Linked DNA regions of Homo sapiens. The protein of the gene in region 1 binds, or shares a complex with, the protein of each later gene. Each region holds a gene or a part of one and is shown on either strand. Other genes may lie near its edges.

Region 1 (9,466 bases):
CGCAGGAGGTTATCAGCATCCAAACAAGGGGTCTGGGCCTCTGTCAGCACTCGGCTGATGGGCAGGGGGGCAGATAAGCGAGCTTAGGCAGCCTGAGGAATGCGCGTCCCTAGCCCCACGAGGGTCTCTGGCCCAGAGAGGGCCTGTGAGGGCAGGGCGGGACCAGGCTTCGCTCCTCCTTTGAGCCTTGCAGGCTGTCTCTGAGCAGGGCTGGGCCCTTAGAGAAACCTGACTCCGGGGGCCAGATGGAGGGGACTGGCCAGATTGGGTGACAGGGAAACCAGAATCCGGGTGGCCTGGCATATGGGGGCAGAAAGGGGCCCCAGGGAATTTGCCTCCTGGACTAAGGGATTCTTGTCCCCCACACACCGTGGGGTCTGGGGGTCTTTGGTGCCTGGAATCAGGTAGTTCTGGCACTTGGCTGCCTTTGTGCCAGGAAGAACTGACACACCTGGTTTGAGGATGAGTGTATGTGACCAGCTCTGGGGTCAGCAGTTCAGCAGCTGTGTTGGTTGTGGGGGGAGGGTTGTCAATGCCCACAAACAAACAAACAAACAAAACATTGCCTCCCCAGACAACCTGGGGCCAGACAGGCTGAGGATAGACAGAGAACAGGGCCTGATGGGGGTCAGGCCAACTCCCACTCCCAGCCTCTAGTCAAGGGGGAGGGGCCCCGGGATATCGCGGGCTGGTGGTTCTGGGGCAGGTGAGGTCAGCTTTGAAGACCTTGCGTCCGCAGTACCGACCCGCACGCTCTTCAGCGCATCCCTAGTGAAGGAGGTTCTCCCCCAGCCCGTGGTGAGGAACTAGGGGTCCAGTTTCCAACCTCCCTCTTCCTCAAGTTGAGGACAAAGGGAGATGACGCCCGTCTGTGTTGCGGTGATCTGGGTCGCAGGCGCCTTTCTCCGATCCAGGAGGGCGCTGCTAAAAATGCTTCCCTGGGGAGCCCGGCGGAGGGGCGGCCTGGCTGGGAACCATGGGTCTCGCTGCGGAGCGCGGTCGGCAGGGAGAGGGAAGTCGGGGCTGGCGCCCTCTGGCGGGCGAGGTTGAAGCCGCTCGTGGTCGTACCGCTTCCCTGGCCTCTAGAGGCTCCGGGCGGGCGCCGTGGGGCCGGGGCCTCCGAGTCCCGCCACTGCTCTGGGCGGCCGAATCTTGGGCGGAAGGCGGGGGAATGCCACTGAGGCTTGCATGCATGCGTGCATACGTTCATTCATTCATTCGAACGACTTGAGTTGGAGTGGGGAAGTCTGGCTGTGGCCCTCACTCCTCTTTCCCTTCCTCTTCTTGGCCCCAGCCTCCAAAGTCCTCGGCACGTGCTTGGCAGGAGGAGCGGGAGACTGGCTGAGTCCTCTCTCCTGGGAGGCCTCCCTAGCTGACCCATCTACCCCCTGCGCGGCTCCGCCCCAATATTTACCCCACCCACCCCCCGCGATGCCACTGATCGCTCCTTGCATTTCTCGCCGGTTTTCCGGGTAGGTCTCCCGGTGGGCGCGGGCCTGCGCCGAGCACGCTCCTGCCCGCAGTGGGGGCCCAATCCACATCAGCCTCTCGGCCCAAGAGTTTCTCGGCCGGTTGGGGCGCCCCGCGGACACAGCTGGGCAAGGTTTATTCCTCTCTCCTCGCCCCAGCCTCTCCTCGAGCCCTCTTCTTTGCCCTTCAGCGCACAGTAGGAGCGCTGCCGGCTCACTGTGGCCTCAGACCCCTGGGGGATGAAGGCATACGCCGGGGTTTGCCGACTGCTGGAGGAAGGGCAGGCTTCTATTTGGGGGCCGAGGGAGACGACTCCCAGACAGTGGCCGAAGTGCTTAACGTAGTCTCGGCGATTTGCATTTGAACGGTCGGCAGTGAGTCCGCGGCGCTTTGAACGCCCGGCGCAGGAAGCGCGCGTCGGAGCGAGCTGCGGTCTCCGGCGGGTGTGGATTGGAGGGGCCGGGGGATGGGCTGGGATCGAGGGGTGCGTTTGGAAATAGGCTGAAGTAGTGTGTCTGGGTGCAGGCGAGGGCGTGTCTGCGGAGATGGGCCGTTTGTGTTGGCGAGGAGTGTGTGTTTGTGTTTGCAGGCGAGGGAGTTTGTGTCTGTGCGTGTGTGTGTTTGTGTTTGCGGAGTGTGGGGGCGGCCAGGAAAGGTGGCCGGGCTGTCACTCAGCGATCAGGTTGACAGGCGCTCCCTCATCTGGGCCAGGGAGCTCTGATTGCAGATTCGAGGAAACAAAATAGCAATTGTAATTACCGGGCTTTGATAAGATAAAGGAGGGAGGGAGCTGGCCGGGAGGCGGGCGAGCCAGCAAGGGAGGGAGCGGCCTGCGGGGGCCCGGCGGGACATTTGCATCTGTCAGTCACGGGGCGTGCCAGGGCAGAGCCAGGTGCTTGCTCCCGGGGTGTCCCCATCTGCTCCTCTCCCCCAGAGAAACGGACTTTTGGGGAGATGAGAATTTCAACGAACTAGGTGAGGGTCCGCTTCTCAGGAGGGTCTCCAAATCCAAATGTAAAGGAATCCTGGTCCAGCACAGGCTCCCTGGCAGAGGCTGGGACAGGACTGAAACTTGACCTCGGACCCTTCAGATCCCAGGACGCCCATCTTCTCTGGGGCAGAGGAAGAAGGGTGGCTGAAGACCATTGAGGGTCAACCCAGGGCCCTCAGAATCTTCTGGGGGTTCCACAGCTGGAGCTGAATGCTGGTCTCAGCCAGGGGCTCTGCCCCTACCCCCATTCCAGGGAGGGGCAGGTACCCAGAGTGGCTCTGGCTGTGACCCCAGGACCATGCAAACACTGTTGGATGGGCGGGTCACCCTCACCCCTGCCTGGGGCCTACTCCCTGCTCTGCTTATCTCACTGATGTTCAGAGAGTCCATGGTGGGAGAAAGCCCATTTCTTACAGGAAGTGCCTGCTCTCCATCTCTCCATTCAATCATTTGTTCATCGACATACGCAACTAAACATGCTTGAGGGCCTACTGTGTACAAGGATGAGGGTAAGACCACAAGCAAACAGACATAACCTTTGCCCACTTGAAGCAGTGCAGAGAGGGAAACAGACACTCAATGAATTGTGACTCAGGCCTTACACAGAACACAGGGAAGGCAAGGGCTGGCCTGGGCTGTGGCCACTTGTGTCCACCTGACTTGTCTCCGCCTGATGGACCCACCTCCCCATGGGCTTTAGAGGAGACAGTGCCTGCCAAGCCTGTGGCAGATACAAGTGCTCACTAACTGGTGGTGTTCCTGGTGATAATCTGTTGGGAGGAGGTGAAGGCAGGTCTTCCTGGGGAAGTTGCAAATAGGCTGAAGTCTACAGGCTCAGCCACTTCCCCCATCATTCATTCATTCATTCATTCAACGAACTCTTAATTGCAGAACAGCTCTGCCCAGCCTTGTGCCACGAGCTGTGATTTCTGAGCTCATAAGACATGGTCCTTGTGGGCAAGGTCTGTGTGGGCAAGAGCCCACTGAACAGACTCCTGGAGGAGGATGGCAAGTGTGCTCTGGAAGTCTACTTCTCTGAGGAGGGATAAGATCTTGGAACGCACCCTCTAACTGTTTTCCCATCTCTCCATTGCTCAGTGTTTGCATTTATGGCTGGGAGTTGGAAAGATGGGGCACAGGGAAAGGTGGGACACAGAGCAGGGAGGGAGGCAGGGCCTGGCTGTGCTGCTGGACTAGGGCTGCCGCTAATTTTGGCCTAATGGCTTCCTGGGACCACACCAAACCCTCCAGCCCTACCCCCAGGGGAATGGAGGGTCACTGGGGAAGGGGAGGTTGTAAGTGAAGACAGCAGTCTGGTAGGGCATCACCTGCTCCTCACAAGGCACCTGTCCCAGAGCATCTCTGTCCACCCAGGCTGCTCCCACAGAAGCAGCATGGGGGCTCAGGGTTTCCAGAAACCTCAGGGGGGAAGCCACAAGGTGGGGGGCTAGGAAAGGCTTAGACAAGTGCCTACCTTCTCCTATGCCCCAAGCCCAGCTGACCAGCCCCTGCCTAGAATACAGTAGGTGTGTAAATACCTGTGAAATGAAAAACGAGTGGGGCTTTGAGGGGGAAAGGGCTGGGTGGCCTGGATGGAAGTCCCTTCCCCCAGTAAAAGCTACTGAGAGTTTTTTTGCCCCTGCTGCCTGCTGAGGTACGGGGACAGTGGGTCCTGCCAGGGACCTCCGGACTCTCTCTTCCACACAGGTGGCTCGGGGTGCTCCTCAAGCTTCAGGCTAGTGTGTGTGTGTGTGTGTGTGTGTGTGTGTGTGTGTGTGGTGAGGGGCACAGGGGAAGGGGTGATAGTGATAATGGGATGGGGGGAGGGGGAGGCATTTCTGGCTCCCAGGGCCTCCTCGGGAGAGTGAAGGAGACTGGAGAGACCGACAGGACGGGGCACGCGGCCGAAACAGGGGAGCGGGGTCCGGGTGGCACCGGCACGCACTGCGCGAGGGCCGGGTGCGCAGCCATTCGCTGCATGGTTAGCGGCCGCTCCCAGGGGCCCGGCGGGACACACAGTAGGTGGCTCGGAGACCACTGCGTAGCCGGCGGCGGAAGCGGCTGGGCCCGGAGGCGGAGACCCAGACCCGCCAGACTCGGGCGCTCCAGGCGGTCGGGGAAGCCCAGGCTCGGGGTCTCCCGGCCCGCAGAGTTTGCAGCCCTAGGCGCCCCCATCCCCGCGCGTCCGGGACCGGGGAGCGCGCGAGGGGACAGGCCGGGGATAGGGGGAGGCGCCCAGACCGGCCGCCCCCGCCCCTCCCGCGGGTCCCCAGACCCCTCCCCTAGCCCAGACCCTCAATCCCGAACCCGTCGGCCGCCCCTCCCCGGCCGCCCCGCCCCCGCCCCGGGCTGCATCCAGGCCCCAGTTCCCAGCCGGGGGCTGCGGGCTCCCGCCGCCCGCCCCGCGCTCCCCCCTCGCGCCCGGTGCGGCGCCCCCCGCCCCCACCCCTCCCCGCCCTCCCACCTCCCCACCCACCCCGCCAGCCCGTGACCCTCCCGCCCGCTCCGGCTCCCGAGCAGCCAGCGGCCACCGGCTCCGGCAGCGGCGCACAGCGATTCGGTGCGGCGCGGCGAGCACGACGTTCCACGGGACCCGCGGAGCCGCGTCGTGATCGCCGCCGGCCTCCCGCACCCGCACCCTCTCCGCTCGCGCCCTGCTCAGCGCGTCCTCCCGCGGCGGCCCGCGGGACGGCGTGACCCGCCGGGCTCTCGGTGCCCCGGGGCCGCGCGCCATGGGCAGCCCCCGCTCCGCGCTGAGCTGCCTGTGAGTACCGCGCCGCCCTGCCCCGCCACCCGCCCCCCGCGCCCCTCGCCTCACCCGCGCCTCTCTCTCCCGCCCGCTTTTGTCTCCCACAGGCTGTTGCACTTGCTGGTCCTCTGCCTCCAAGCCCAGGTGAGGAGGGGTGCGCGGAGGCGGGGGCCGGGCGCGCCGGTGTGAGACCCGGGTGGGCAGCGCCGGTCGGGGGCACCGGGACTGACTCTGCGGCCGGCGCGGGAGGGCTGAGGGCACCTTAGAAACCCAGCCCCGAGCCACCCCGAGGAGGGAGCTGAGGCACAGAGAGGTAGCACCCCTCCTGAGGTCACACAGCGAGTGAGTGGCCAGGATAGAAACGAAGGTCTCGGAGCCCAGCACTGTCCCCCATGCATCCTCGCCGGCTGGGGGCATAGGGAACACCCAGCCGCCGAGGAAGGGGGCAGCCGCGGCCAGGGGATGGATGTTCGATGCCAGGGGAAGCCGGGTGACTGCAGCAGAGACCCTCTCAGCGCCCCTCGGGGGAGGCTTGTGGCCGATTTGGCCCAATGATCGGGTGCCCAGGTTCCCTGCACTCTCAACATTTGCTCCGTAAATTTGTCTTTATAAATGTCAGGGGTCGGGGAGGGCTGCCTCCCTACTTAAAAGCGCCCTGCTCCTCTAGGAAGGCCCGGGCAGGGGCCCTGCGCTGGGCAGGGAGCTCGCTTCCCTGTTCCGGGCTGGCCGGGAGCCCCAGGGTGTCTCCCAACAGGTGGGTCCAGCTTCTCCCTGGGGCTCGTTCATCCTGGGCTGGGTCTGCCCGACTTGCGTGGGTGGGGGATGGTGGCCTGGGCTGGCATGTTGGGGGAACCCCCAGCACCTGCTGGCGGCTTGGGGCAGTGAGGGGGACGCAGGGTGATGGGGCCACTCGGGCCCCTGGGCGGAGTAGCATTATAATGGTGTATTGTGTATTTTTCAATTTCCTAAAGGTAACTGTTCAGTCCTCACCTAATTTTACACAGCATGTGAGGGAGCAGAGCCTGGTGACGGATCAGCTCAGCCGCCGCCTCATCCGGACCTACCAACTCTACAGCCGCACCAGCGGGAAGCACGTGCAGGTCCTGGCCAACAAGCGCATCAACGCCATGGCAGAGGACGGCGACCCCTTCGGTAAGGCGCGCTGAAGGTAGCTTGTGGGATGCGCGGCGCCTGGACCACCAGTCCCAACTGCACTGGCCGGGGGCCTGCAGGGTCCCCAGCTCAGAAGGGAAGGAGTTAAGGCAGAAAGGTGTCTTGAGGGTCAGCTGGGGAAGAGAGGGCTAGGGAAGGGGCCTCGGGGAGTACTTGGCCACAGGTGCCCCCTTCCCTGCCCAGCAAATGAATGAATCTAGGAATCTCCCTTTACACCTCCCCCCTTCATACACTCCTCCCCAGCTGCAGGTGGAGGCAGGGGGTTCAGGGGGAGGGGGCCTAGGTTTAAGGCAAGCGCTTGAAAGAGGATATGTCGCCAGGGCCCACAAAAGGAGAGTGGGAAAGAGAAGGGAGAGAAATCCCCTCAACTCTCCCAGTTGGAAAAGGAGGTTGCTGGGAACCCTTAAATACTTTAATCGGATGGGTCAATTTACACGTGGAAACTGGGCTTGGAAGGGGGCTCTCCCTGCTCCATTCCCTGGGGAACCCAGGCGGCTGGGGCAGGGCTCCCGGCTCCCTGTGGGGTGGCAAGTGCGGAGAGCTACTGCCGGCAGAGAGGCTGAGGACTGATTGATTTCTAAAACATTCAATATTCCTGCCTTGAAACGGGGCCAATTTCCAGAGTCCTGGATGTACCAAGAGAAAAGCAAGCCCTCTGGGCGGCTGGTGTTGTTTTTAGAGAGCGATTATTGTGAGTTTAAAAACCTTTAAATAATGACCACGTTAAACAAGCATGAAAGGAGAGGGGAAGACTCTATTAAAATGTAATAAAAAGGTGAGGCATTTTAAGAGCTAAGAAGAAAAATGAAGAATGATATAAAACAGAAAAAGAACGAGCTTTTTTTCAGATGTGGAGTTTGAAAGGAGTTGCAAGTCTGTAAATGTTAAAAAAGAGGTTCAAGATTGTTCTCTCTGAATCTCTGGAGAGACCCCTGCGTCTGGCAGAGCGATTAAAACTCTTCTTACTTTCACCTTTTTTAACATTTCCTGAATACTTTCTCCTCTTCTTGAGCCAGTTTGGGGGATCGAGTATGTCTCGCTGCATTTTTTCTGCATCGACGTAGCTGACTTCCCTTCAAAGCTGGAGGAGACATAATTTTCCTGGGATAAATCTGTCACTGGGGTGGAAGAATAGGTTTGAAAATGTTAAGCTTTCCAAAAGCCCGGTCGGGAGAGCTGCCGTAAACTGCGGCCCCAGCTCCCCAGATCGGAGCAGATTCAACCGACATGGGAGAGAGCGGGCTTTCTGGGGTGGGGGTGGGGGCGGCCTGCCTGGTGGCCGAGCTCCCCTACTGGGCTGGCAGAGCAGGCCTACCATCCCTTTGTCCCTCCAAATTAGCTGCTTGCTGCCCTTCTCAGCTTCTAAGGAGAGGAGACGAATGCCTGGCTCTTCCAGGGTTTGCTCTGTCAGAGCAAATGGCCCAGCATCCTTGGATTTCGGGGAGGGAAGCAGAAGTCAAGCTGGTGTGGGGGAATTCATCTTCAGACATCAGAGGAAGCCTGATGTCCACTTCTCTCCGTGGCCATATAAGAGGTTTCCCGCCTTCCCTAGTCCCTGCCCCACAGCAGGATAGGAGCTGGAGGCCCTAAGAACAGAGGCTCAGGGTGTTCAGCCAGGACAGGAGTAGTCCGGGGAGAATAGCAGAGAGGTCTCAATGGCTTCTTTACCGGCCCCAGGAAGATGCAGAGGCACCTACTTCATCCCTGCCTGCCGCATCTGGCCAGAATCCCCAGAGTGGCATCCTCTCACTCCTCCAGTCAGCATCCTTCCTGGCCCTTAAAAATAGCTGCCTCTTGCTGTGGAAGGCAGAGCGGGAGAGGGATGAGCAGACTGGCTAGGTCCAGGAGGAGGTGGGCAGGCAGGGAGGTGACAGCTGCATTTCCCTGCTGACTTGGGGCCAAACCGGGGGCTTGGCCACTGGTCCCAGCACTGAGCCTGTGTGAAGCGGGGAACATTACAAGCTGAGCAGTGATGACTGACTTGCTGACCTCGATGCCCCAAACCCCTGCCATGGGTTTCAGGGACAGAGGAGGTGCCATATGTCAATGCAGGCTAAGTCCAAGAACTGCTTTCTCAGGGAGGGGAGAGGCTGGGCTCTGCGGCAGGGACGGCAGGAGAGCCAGCGCCTTCTGTCCCTTCCTAAACAGTGAAGTCACCCTCACTACTTTCTTGAGGACAGCCTATAAGAGATGATTGCACAGAGAGGTGAACAGGACAGGCTTCTGTGGCAAGTTGGCTGTCTAAGGGGAGGGGAATGGGAAAGGAGGCATAGAATTCAGCCCTGCCTCCTGGCCTCCAGTCTAAGAGGCCAGCAGGCAGGATTCTCCCTCCTCCTCACCCACAGAAGCTATTTGGTCACTGGGCTGAGAAGCCCAGCTGTGATGAGGCTGAAAGAGAAAAGACAATTGAGTTGTTGATTTCTAGACACTGGGCTGGGGACCCTGGTGACTGGGAAGCCACAGGGAAGAGGCAGGATCCTCCTGGCAGGTGTCTGAGGTTCTGGGAAAGCAGCCTGCTTTGGGCTGTGTGTTTAGGGAGAGCTGTCCCCATCCCTAGCACCTTCTCAGCAGAGCAGAGCCTGGTGATGTTGAGGGGCTGGGGGTGGCCAAAGCTGTGAGTTAGAACCCAAAGTGGCAGAAACAGGAGACAATGCTTTCATCTTTGGCCTTGGGACTGGAGGTCACCCCTTCACCCAAGTGTTTGTAATGACCTGTGAGACACGCACACATAATATTTGGAGTTGGAAGGATCCTCGGAGATCTTTTGATTAGCTATGGAACTCTGATTCAATTAAATTTTACTTAGATCCTCAATCTAAGAGACATCACTGTCTGGTTTAAAAAGAGGGTGGAAGGAATGGCACTTCAGCCTTTTCAATTTGATAGTCCCAAGACCTCTCTTGAGAACCCAGTTTGAAAACCATAATCCCGTCCACTGCCCTCTGTAAACCCAGGGGTGGGGCCCGAGGTCCAGAAAAGCCCTTTCTCTGGGTTGCACAGCATGTTAGTAGCTGGGCTGGAGCTGGAGTCCATGTTTTGGGTTCCTGGTCTTTGGAGCAGTTGCTGCTGGGCTGTGACAAGTG
Region 2 (9,658 bases), about 20 Mb from region 1:
GTTTTAAAAGATAATAGGAATTCTATGTGAAAAATGGCCCACTTCTTTATTTTAATACTGAAAACAACTTCCTAATCCTAAAATGATTTTCTTCCCCTAATCTATTCTTGGGCATCTTCTTGAATTTCCAGCCTGCTTTGAGGGAAGTCTGGGTTTACAAAGGCGAGATTCAAAGCTTTTCAAACAGGACAGGTCCTCTGGTTCCCTGTGAGAAGAGCCCAGGACCCACCCTGTGAAAGTTCATCCCACCTAAATTTGTTCATCTGGACTCAGTCTTTGCCAGTGTGATTGAAGGCGTTTGTAAGCACATCCAGGAGTACTATCCACCTGGGCAGTCACGCAGGAGACAGAGCCCAGGGTGGGCTAGTTGCCTGCTTGGAGATGGATCGTGGTTAACTTCACATTCTTGTTCTCTTGGGCCAAAGTCTTGTTCATGGTTTAGAATAAGACAGTGTTCAAGCAGCCTGTGGTCAGACTAAGATTGCGTAGTCATCCTCAAAAGTGGCCTTCCAGTGTGCTCTGTGTGAGTCTTTTTTTTTCCATAGAAACCAGCCAAAGGACAGTGATATATTTAAGAAATAATCATTTTATCAGACACACTGAAATGGATCAGGATAAACAAGAAAGTAACTCGGTGGAGCCCTGTGTACTGCCAGGTGGGAGAGGAGTTCTCTTGTGTGGTTATGGGAAAAGGTGTATTTTCTTTCCATTGATGCTTCATCCCACGTGTTTAGTGCACTGGTTTCTGAAACCGAAGACAAGAGGCAGCCCATTTCCACTGAATAGCCTGGCCATCAATAAGTTTCCAGAAGGACTGGGGAGAAACAAAGAATGGCCCCCAATGCTGGGGTCTGGGGTTATTTTGAGTTAAAGGGACTCGGAGCTACTGAATGTCTTCCACATTCAAGTCCTAGAACTCTTTCCTTGAGATATTCCACTTTACATTTCCAAAGACAGAGGAAATATGGTAGAGCCAATTTCCTAAAAGTTTTCGTAGAATTTCATAAGCACAGCATTGATCCATGATCCGGGTGGTCTGAGAGGGGATCCATTATCCAGGGCTCCAGTACAGGTGCAGGTACAACCATAAAGGCACTAATGAAGCCAGAGAGGACTGTCTGCATGTCCTCAAGTGACTCTCTGGAGGAATTAGGACAGAAAGAAAATTTACATTGTGATCAGATGGTATAGAAAAATTTCATAGAAAAACCTGAACATAGGAACATAAAATTTGGATGAAATCTGGTACTGCATGGACTGGAGGGCAGAGGAGTTAGATTCCAGTGGTTTTCTAATTTGGTTTCTGACTTCTGCCAGCCCCCAACCCATTCCTTTCTAAGATTCGATACTCTGGCTGGGCTCTGGCTGACTTCCAGCCTTCTCAGATGGAGCCAGGATTACATCTGTGTCTTTGCATTTTGTATCCAGGTTTCGGCTGAGTCCAGCTCCTCCATGAACTCCAACACCCCGCTGGTGAGGATAACAACACGCCTCTCTTCAACGGCAGACACCCCCATGCTGGCAGGGGTCTCCGAGTATGAACTTCCAGAGGACCCAAAATGGGAGTTTCCAAGAGATAAGTGAGTACTTCTCTTGGCCATGTCCCAGGATGGAGACTCAGCTATAAATGGGGATATTGGATTAACATTTTCTTTTTATGACCCTTAGCCACAAAGGTCTTGGTGTGATGATGTCAGCAGGAGTAAGATTGTATTTCTAAATAACCAACTCCTGGAAAAGAAAAAAATGGATTTAAAAAAAAAAATAACTCCTTGAAAGCAGAGCTACTTGCCCCTGGCTGGTCCCCAAAGAAGATGGCATCTGGTTATCATTTTTTAAGTGTCTGGGCAATTCAGACTCCGTCAAATGGAATAAAAGTAGAATTATCCAATTTATAAAACAGATCTGACATTCTAGCTTTTGGTTACTAGAACAAGACTGTTCTCTGTTCACTTCTGTGGAGAAATTAGATGCAGAATATAAATGGCCTTAAGGACCGCTACCCAGTGTTGCTGTTCTCATTGGTTATTAATGTCATATTGGGCTGAAAAGCTTCAAATATGGTACCTGACATCTAATTTCTGTGATCCATAATATTTTCCTTGTTGGATGATACAGAGGTGTGCCAATCAGATGTTTAGTCAAAATATGGCCACCTGGGTGGTGTTGGGGCTACGTATCTCTTGGTCTCGCTTGAACTCCACGTACTGGAGCTCCGTTGGGCTGCATTTGAATCCTGGCTTTGCCAGACAGTGGCTGGGCAACCTCGGGTGAGGCACCTGATTCTCTGAAATTCATTCTCATAAAATGAGGGTGGTGGTTCAGACCTCCCAGGACTGAGCAGAGTTCTTGGCTTGTGCGAGTTTTCCTTTCATTTCCCTTCACGTGGTGGTAACCTGGGAGCTCTGAACTGCAAACCTCAGCAGGATCATCGTGTGGGGCATGGAGTCAGTGGGCAGAATTTGAGCTCCTAGCCCTCGTCCTCTAGGCAGGGACCGACCCCTAGATCCTCCTTATGAAAGGAAGTGCAGTGGTCATTGTAGGGCTGTCCACTCACTTCTGGGGTACTTTTTGTCGTCACAGCTTGAGAGTACGGGAAGGTGGAAATGCTGACTACTTCTGCATCACATACACTGGAATAAGCTCTTGACTTGCTTATAAGCAGCTACCCTGTTTGCCTTGACATTTTCAGTAGCTCCTCAGATTATATACACTTCTCATGTGTACCTATACACATTTGGAAATGCAAAGATAAGCTCTTCCAGAGACTGATCTGATGAGCTCTATTTGGAAGGGAGAGGTAGCTTATGTGGCTGGCACTTCTGATTTTGATTCACGTGATGTCACATCAGTTTTGTTTCCCAAGTGCCAATTTAGAGATGTGTACCGTTAGCTAGGACTGAATAATTGTATGGATATTATTTGGTTAGAGTGTTAATGGAAGTAATTTCCAGTTGATTTGTATACTGTAGTGAAAAGACCACTCACTCATTCACTTATTCATTCACTCAAGGCATGTTAATTGGACATTTACTGGTGGGGCACCAGAGAAAACACAAAGAATGGTTTCTTTACCTGTAGGATGTGGAGAAATGGATGTTTCTTGTGAACTCCGCCAGCCCTAGTTTGTGTGTGATTATATACACAGATAGGTTCATGTGCACATTCCTATATATATAACTGAACTGGGGAGTTGTGATCATATTTTAAGAAATTGCAGCTTTCGGGTTTAGTCCATAGTTTTTGCCACCTGTGACACCACAGTCAACAGTGGAAGTCTGTATGTGCCCAACTGTTACCTCCCACCCGGGGTACCCTGAGTGTGGAAAATCTGAGTGCTAAACATTTCAAAACAGTGTTTAGCGCAAACGTAGGTGGAACAGATTTCCAATGAATGAAGGCTATTTAGAAGCAGTTTATTAGATCGGAGGCAGAAGTTATACAAAGAAAGGATTGTTATGCTTGTAGTAGCAAGGCGGTGGGACATAAATTAGCCATTTTTCCAATGCAAATATTTATTTTCTGCCAAGATGTTAAATTTAATTTTCGTTCTGGGTAGAAACAAAATGACCTCAGCATAGCACATGCTGCCCTTAGTCTTTATGCTGCACTTTTGCAAACTATTGTGTACTTACCTTAAATACTGTTTACTAATGGCAGCTCCATGCTTTGCTGTGTTATGCTTAAGTTAGAAAGAGCCGTATTCATAAGTATTCCAAAGACTTTTGCGTTTTGTTGGTTTCTGGAATGCACAAGGACAATATATGGCTATTCGTCCGATGTGCATAGACCTTGTAATCTTAGAAATTTAATTTGTGGTGTTCACTTTGGATTTTCTTCATTGTTAATTTTATGTAGTCATAAGGACTTTTAAACTTATGTCAAAAAAAAAGTCCCCAATTTTTTAGAATTTTCTTTTTAGTAAAAAATTAGAGATTCCTTGAAATGCTTTTAAGAGGCATATCCTGTAACTTGGCAAGGAATGTGACCATAAAATCCATTGGTATTTGAATAATAATTTTAAAGCCACCATTTTACAGGGACAAAAAAATAAGAACAGTCTTAACGTTTTTTCTTTGAGCCATTCTAAATTACAAATATTTAATTGGCTCAAGATCAAAAGCTCTTCTCTGGCACTTAGGAAAGCTGACCACCGCACTAGCAAGGATACCTTCCCTAAAGAAAATAAACCGAGAATACCAATGTGAAATTTAATAGCCGTTCCACCAGTAATTGACATTCTCTAAAACGTCACTAGGAAAATACTCAGGCGCGTGTGTACCCTAAGTCTCATTAGTTCCATATGATAAGCACTCCATGCTTTAGTAAGCCGCTGAAAGATTTTTATATTTAGTTCTGGAATTTCCCTCACTACACCCCATCACCAGATGCTATGTGCTAATCCCCTATTTACACATTTAGGCTGACACTGGGCAAGCCCCTGGGAGAAGGTTGCTTTGGGCAAGTGGTCATGGCGGAAGCAGTGGGAATTGACAAAGACAAGCCCAAGGAGGCGGTCACCGTGGCCGTGAAGATGTTGAAAGGTGAGCGGGGAGGCGGGAGGCTCGGGGAGGGGCTGGGTGGAGAGTCTTATCAAGAAAGTTCCTTTTGTGGCATGTGAACTCTATCATGGCACGGGGTCAGAGAGCACATAGTTGACCTAGGGGTTGAGAAGTTTTCGGTATAAATCAGCATCTCGGACAGACTATTTATCTTGAGCTGTGTGTACTTATAAAGAAAAGCCAGTTTTGTTAGAAAGCGGTAGCCTCCTACATAGAGTTATTCTTTGACTCCTTCTTCGTGACCACAATTCTTCATTCTCTCTGTATTTTTATGTGCTTAGAAATTATCAACTCACATATAATTGAATTTATTAGCTAGGAGTTGGTGTGTTAGATTTGGGACTTAAACCTTAACTTTACAAGTACAAGAAAATTTGTGTTTTTGGAGGGAACGAAGAGACGTAAGGGAGCAGAAAGCCTTCTCTTTTGCGTGAGGAACAAAGCAGAAATGACACTGGTCTGGGAGAGTCACTTAGAAGCTGAGAAGGAGTGAACAGGATCAGGGCTGGTGCAGAGCCTCCTGGGACACATAAACAATTACCCTGAGATGTAAATGTCGTGTTGTGTTTGTGGGACTGTGAACACTTCTACGTTAACCTTCCAACCCTGCTTCATGCCCATGTCCAAAGAACTTAAAGAACTTTTAACCATTAACTTATTCGTCCTGCAGTATTCTTTTATGAGAAGAGTTATAGGGAACTGTCACATTATAAATCCTCTTGTAGGGATCTCGGAAAGAAGATCCCATGCCGAGTGTTTCCCACGTTTCCAGGCAGAGAGGCCCATCCTTGGGATATGGTGCTGGGCATGTCGCAGGCGCTCTGGAGTTAGGCTTTGTCTTTCTTTTGTGGGTTCTCATGGGATAGTCATCACATCCCTCCCAAGGGGAAGTAGCAGGCTGGACTTTGTCAACAAGATGTGCATTTTGTTTTTTGGGTTTTTTAAAAGGCTGTTTATCTGAGTGACTCCCAAGGAAAACTAGAGTGCTTTGAGATGTTCCCCACCTTGGAGCCTGATGCCGGGGAGGAACACTGTGCTGTCTTGCCCCAGGTGTCATGGCACCACTGACTGAGGCAGCCCCTGGCTGCGTACCAGGGCCAGGTGTGGGGAGGACCCAGGCTTCTCATCTCTTTTGGCGGAACTTCTGGTTTTGCTAATGGAGCTCAGAGTTACATGGGATATTGCAAAAAGGGAGGTCTGGGAGTTCTCTTTCTCTTGTGATGCCCAGGCTGGCAGCCTTCCCTGTAAGGACACAGAAGGATATTAGTCCCCAAGCCATTGTGGCGTGTCCTTTCTTACAGCCCACGGCTGTGTCTCCCTCCCTCCTCATGGCCCGTGGCTCCCTCCTTCACATACATCAGTGTAAATTTTGCACACACAGTCACTTGTATTGATCTTCCTTTTGTGAAGCTAAAAAACTGTTTGCAACATGGTTCTTATCCATGCCCATATTTCATTTTTTTTTTAAAGGAAACCCAGATTTTTCCATACTGAATTAGCTTGAGGTGGAGGGCACATGGGAAAGTCTTGCCACTTAGGAGAATCTAAGAGAAGCTAACTGCGAGCCCGCGTATGTGGAACCTGTGCCATTCTTGCTTGAAATTACAGAGCGGAAGTTTATGTAACTTTTCTTAGGATGGGAACTGCAGTGCCCTCTGAGAAGCCACTAGAAGTCGCAGCCCTTTACCTGCTCAGAATGCACATGCACACACGTTTATGGCCCTGTTTATGGGGAACCGTCTGAACCCACCTCGGAACGCTCTAAGGGCCTCGAGGGGCTGGGTTAAGAATGCTTGGTCGGGAGCAAGTCTGTAGTGATTTGAAATGGCCCTACCCTCGGTCTCCTCGCTGGTTTCAGGCACCATGAAGTTTGGTGTGGTTTTCTGAGACGCCTTAGATATGGCAGAGGATGAGATTATCTCATGGTCTAGGAAAGAATTGGCATTAGTGTCAGAAGCCCCTGCTCTCGTCCTGACTCTTGGCCCCATTGGCCCCCCAGTGAGCTCTTTGACACAGAGTGAGGCAGTTCCCTGTGTAGGCCTTTGTCCCTTCCTCGATAAAATGAGGGAGATGATTTGGAAAATCTTTTCTGATTCTGAAATTCAATTTCATGCTGTTTCAACTAAGTCTTTGGCAACTAACAGTAGCTGCCCATGAGTTAGAGGAAATGAACTGATTTGTGAATATGCCTACTGTTCATAGATGATGCCACAGAGAAAGACCTTTCTGATCTGGTGTCAGAGATGGAGATGATGAAGATGATTGGGAAACACAAGAATATCATAAATCTTCTTGGAGCCTGCACACAGGATGGTGAGTAGGAGGAAAAACTGCATTCGCCCAAATACTCTGCAGTTTGATTGAATCATTTTAGAAATGGCTGGGCTTCCAGATCCTGCTCCCAGAGCACCCTGTGTGCATGTTTAAAGTTCTTTTTAAAATCCCCATTGGAAGATGTTCCTAGCCATGAACACAAAGAAGGGTCTGTGCCCGTACCTGGGGGCCAGTGGAAAGGAGGGTGCAGGTGACTTTGGATTTGAGGGCCTAGAGGGCGCTGCTGTTTCTAGGTCATAACCTGGAGGGGGTTTTGGAAAAGGCAGCCTCCTTATGTTTTTGTTTTGTAAGTGCTAAGAGAGATTTGTCAGAATAAGATCCTATGTTTTGGTTGAGAAGTTCTTCCCTTAAAACAGGGATTGAAGAATCCACATCTTGCTGTGGGTCACAGATGGCTGAGCTCCCAAGAATAGCTTAAAAGAGGAGAAAGCGGTATGAAGGAATACGTTATTTTCCCTGGGGGAGAGAGACCCTGGCTTCTTCCATTGAATGTTTACTGGCACTTTGAAATCAATTTGCTAAGTAATTAGTAAACTTGAAAACGCCTATCTTTGACTTAGCAATTTCTCTTGTAGGTCTATATAGTAATTGGTGAACTTTTTCTGTAAAGGGAGGTCGTAGATATTTTAGACTTTTGTGGGCCGTATGGTCTTTGTCGCAACTTCTCGTGTCTGCCATAGTAGTGAGAAAGCAGTGCTAGAAGTACAGAAATGAATGGACCTGGCTGCATGCCAATAAAATTTAATTACCCAAACAGGCGGTAGGCAGGATTTGGCTTGCAGGCTGTAGTCTGCCAACCCCGAGCCTATACCATGGAGAAATTATTGCACACGTGTGTAAGGGAACATGTACAGAGATGTTCATTGCCTACTGTTTGTTATGGCTGAAACCTGGAAGCAAATGCCTATGCATATAAGGGAATGGATAAATAAAGTGTGGTGTGTTTATACGATACAGTATATGCAGCTGTGAAAAGGAATGATCTGGTTTTGTTTTTATAAGCCCAACAGGTTCCAAAAGGATAATGTATGGGTAAAAAATGTTGCAAAGATCTAAGAGCTTTATTATTCATTTATGTGATTAAAAATAATATATTACTTATTGAATAGTTAAAATGAACCAAAAGGATAGAGTGGAGGGATCCATTGCTTTCCAAGAGGGCGCAGGTGACAGCATGAGAGTGACAGGGAAGAGCACGTCAACTGTGTCTCTGTGCCTTTTGAGGCTATCATGACCAAGGGCTTATTTATCATTTTGGAGAGATTATAATCATATTTTTATGTGTGCTTTTCTGTATGTTAAAACTTTTTCTTTTTTCTTCTTCTTTTTTTTTTTTTTTTTTTGAGACAAAGTCTCGCTCTGTTGCCTAGGCTGCAGTGCAGTGGTGTGATCTCGGCTCACTACAGCCTCCACCTCCTGGGTTCAAGCGATTCTCCTGTCTCAGCCTCTCAAGTAGCTGGGACTATAGGTGTGTGTCACCATGCCCAGCTAATTTTTGTATTTTTAGTAGAGACGAGGTTTCGCTATGCTGGCCAGGCTGGTCTTGAACTCCTGGCCTCATGTGATCCACCTGCCTCGGCCTCTGTAAGGGCTGGGATTACAGATATGAGGCACCACGCCCAGCCGCTGTATGTTAAACTTTAAAAAAAAAAAAAAAAGCATGGGTTGTAATAACTAAAAATGTTTTGCTGAATTGCCCAAGGGGAGACCCTGGATTCTCTCTTTAGGGAGCTTCTCTTCTTCCTCAACAGGGCCTCTCTATGTCATAGTTGAGTATGCCTCTAAAGGCAACCTCCGAGAATACCTCCGAGCCCGGAGGCCACCCGGGATGGAGTACTCCTATGACATTAACCGTGTTCCTGAGGAGCAGATGACCTTCAAGGACTTGGTGTCATGCACCTACCAGCTGGCCAGAGGCATGGAGTACTTGGCTTCCCAAAAAGTGAGTCTTTCACATTCTACTTGGCTGGGTGGAATCCAACTAAAAATGTCTTTAAAGAAAACAGGCAATTTGGACATGCTCATTTGCTAGATCAAGCCCTCGCATGTCTTGTACAACCTGGAAAATATTTATTGCGTTATTCCCATTTGAGTTTAATGAACTGTTTAAAACCAAAGCAGCCTCATAAACCTATAGCATCGCTGCAGAGATGAGCAGAAAAGATACCTCTTCTTTGAGACAGGACCATGTGTGATTTCCCTCGGAATTCAGCTCTCCAGGTGGGAAATGGATGGTTTTAAAGGCCCCCTTTAATTCGGATGATTTTCTTTCTTTCTTTTTTTTTTTTCTTAAGCTTCATTTATTTTGTGGTTACTGAGTTTTTGAACATAGACTTTAGGTGTTTAGTGTTTTGGGTTTGATATGGCATTAAATATTCTAAGAGTAAAGGTCAAACAAAGGGGTATTTTAGTAACCTTGCGTCCTGGAGCTCTGCGTTTATTTTGCCTCGTTTGGCGGGTGACCCTCTGTGGTTAGAAGTTGGCCAGGTCCCCTGAGGTGGACTGCCTGCATTCCAGGCGTGCCACTTACCGTGGAACTTGAAACATTTCAGTTATTCTGAGAGTAGTTAGACAGGTGCCCAGATGTCCTCGGAGGCATTTTGGATGACCCAAAACTCCCTTGTCAGCCCCACACATAGGGAAGCGGAGGGGCGGAGCTGCCTCCTGTGCAGAGGTGGGCCTTGCTCCTACCTGCATTGCAGTTTATTGCAGTGCCAGGAATTCCTTGGGTCCCCAAAGAGGTGAGATCCTCTGGTCGGCGT

Evidence for each region.
Region 2: the proteins of FGF8 (region 1) and FGFR2 are in contact, whole or in part, in a crystal structure (PDB 2FDB), measured with the Homo sapiens proteins. Residues at the interface, in NP_149354.1 of Homo sapiens: His53, Val54, Gln57, Asp62, Leu64, Ser65, Arg66, Leu68, Ile69, Arg70, Tyr72, Tyr75, Arg77, Gly80, His82, Val106, Glu107, Thr108, Thr110, Phe111, Gly112, Ser113, Val115, Thr148, Glu149, Ile150, Val151, Leu152, Glu153, Asn154; in NP_000132.3 of Homo sapiens: Glu160, Lys161, Glu163, Lys164, Leu166, His167, Ala168, Val169, Pro170, Asn173, Asp247, Val249, Arg251, Ser252, Ser282, Asp283, Ala284, Gln285, Pro286, His287, Ile288, Gln289, Ile291, His293, Leu309, Val311, Leu312, Lys313, Ala314, Ala315.

The regions. Positions count from the first base shown.
Region 1 is NC_000010.11:101,771,628-101,781,093, reverse strand, and holds the start of FGF8 (fibroblast growth factor 8 isoform F precursor), read left to right. Parts: upstream 1-4,979; 5' UTR 4,980-5,193; coding exon 5,194-5,225; intron 5,226-5,317; coding exon 5,318-5,354; intron 5,355-5,877; coding exon 5,878-5,964; intron 5,965-6,181; coding exon 6,182-6,362; intron 6,363-9,466. UniProt on the Homo sapiens protein: Plays an important role in the regulation of embryonic development, cell proliferation, cell differentiation and cell migration. Required for normal brain, eye, ear and limb development during embryogenesis.
Region 2 is NC_000010.11:121,495,712-121,505,369, reverse strand, and holds part of FGFR2 (fibroblast growth factor receptor 2 isoform 1 precursor), read left to right. Parts: intron 1-1,428; coding exon 1,429-1,580; intron 1,581-4,422; coding exon 4,423-4,544; intron 4,545-6,764; coding exon 6,765-6,875; intron 6,876-8,647; coding exon 8,648-8,838; intron 8,839-9,658. UniProt on the Homo sapiens protein: Tyrosine-protein kinase that acts as a cell-surface receptor for fibroblast growth factors and plays an essential role in the regulation of cell proliferation, differentiation, migration and apoptosis, and in the regulation of embryonic development.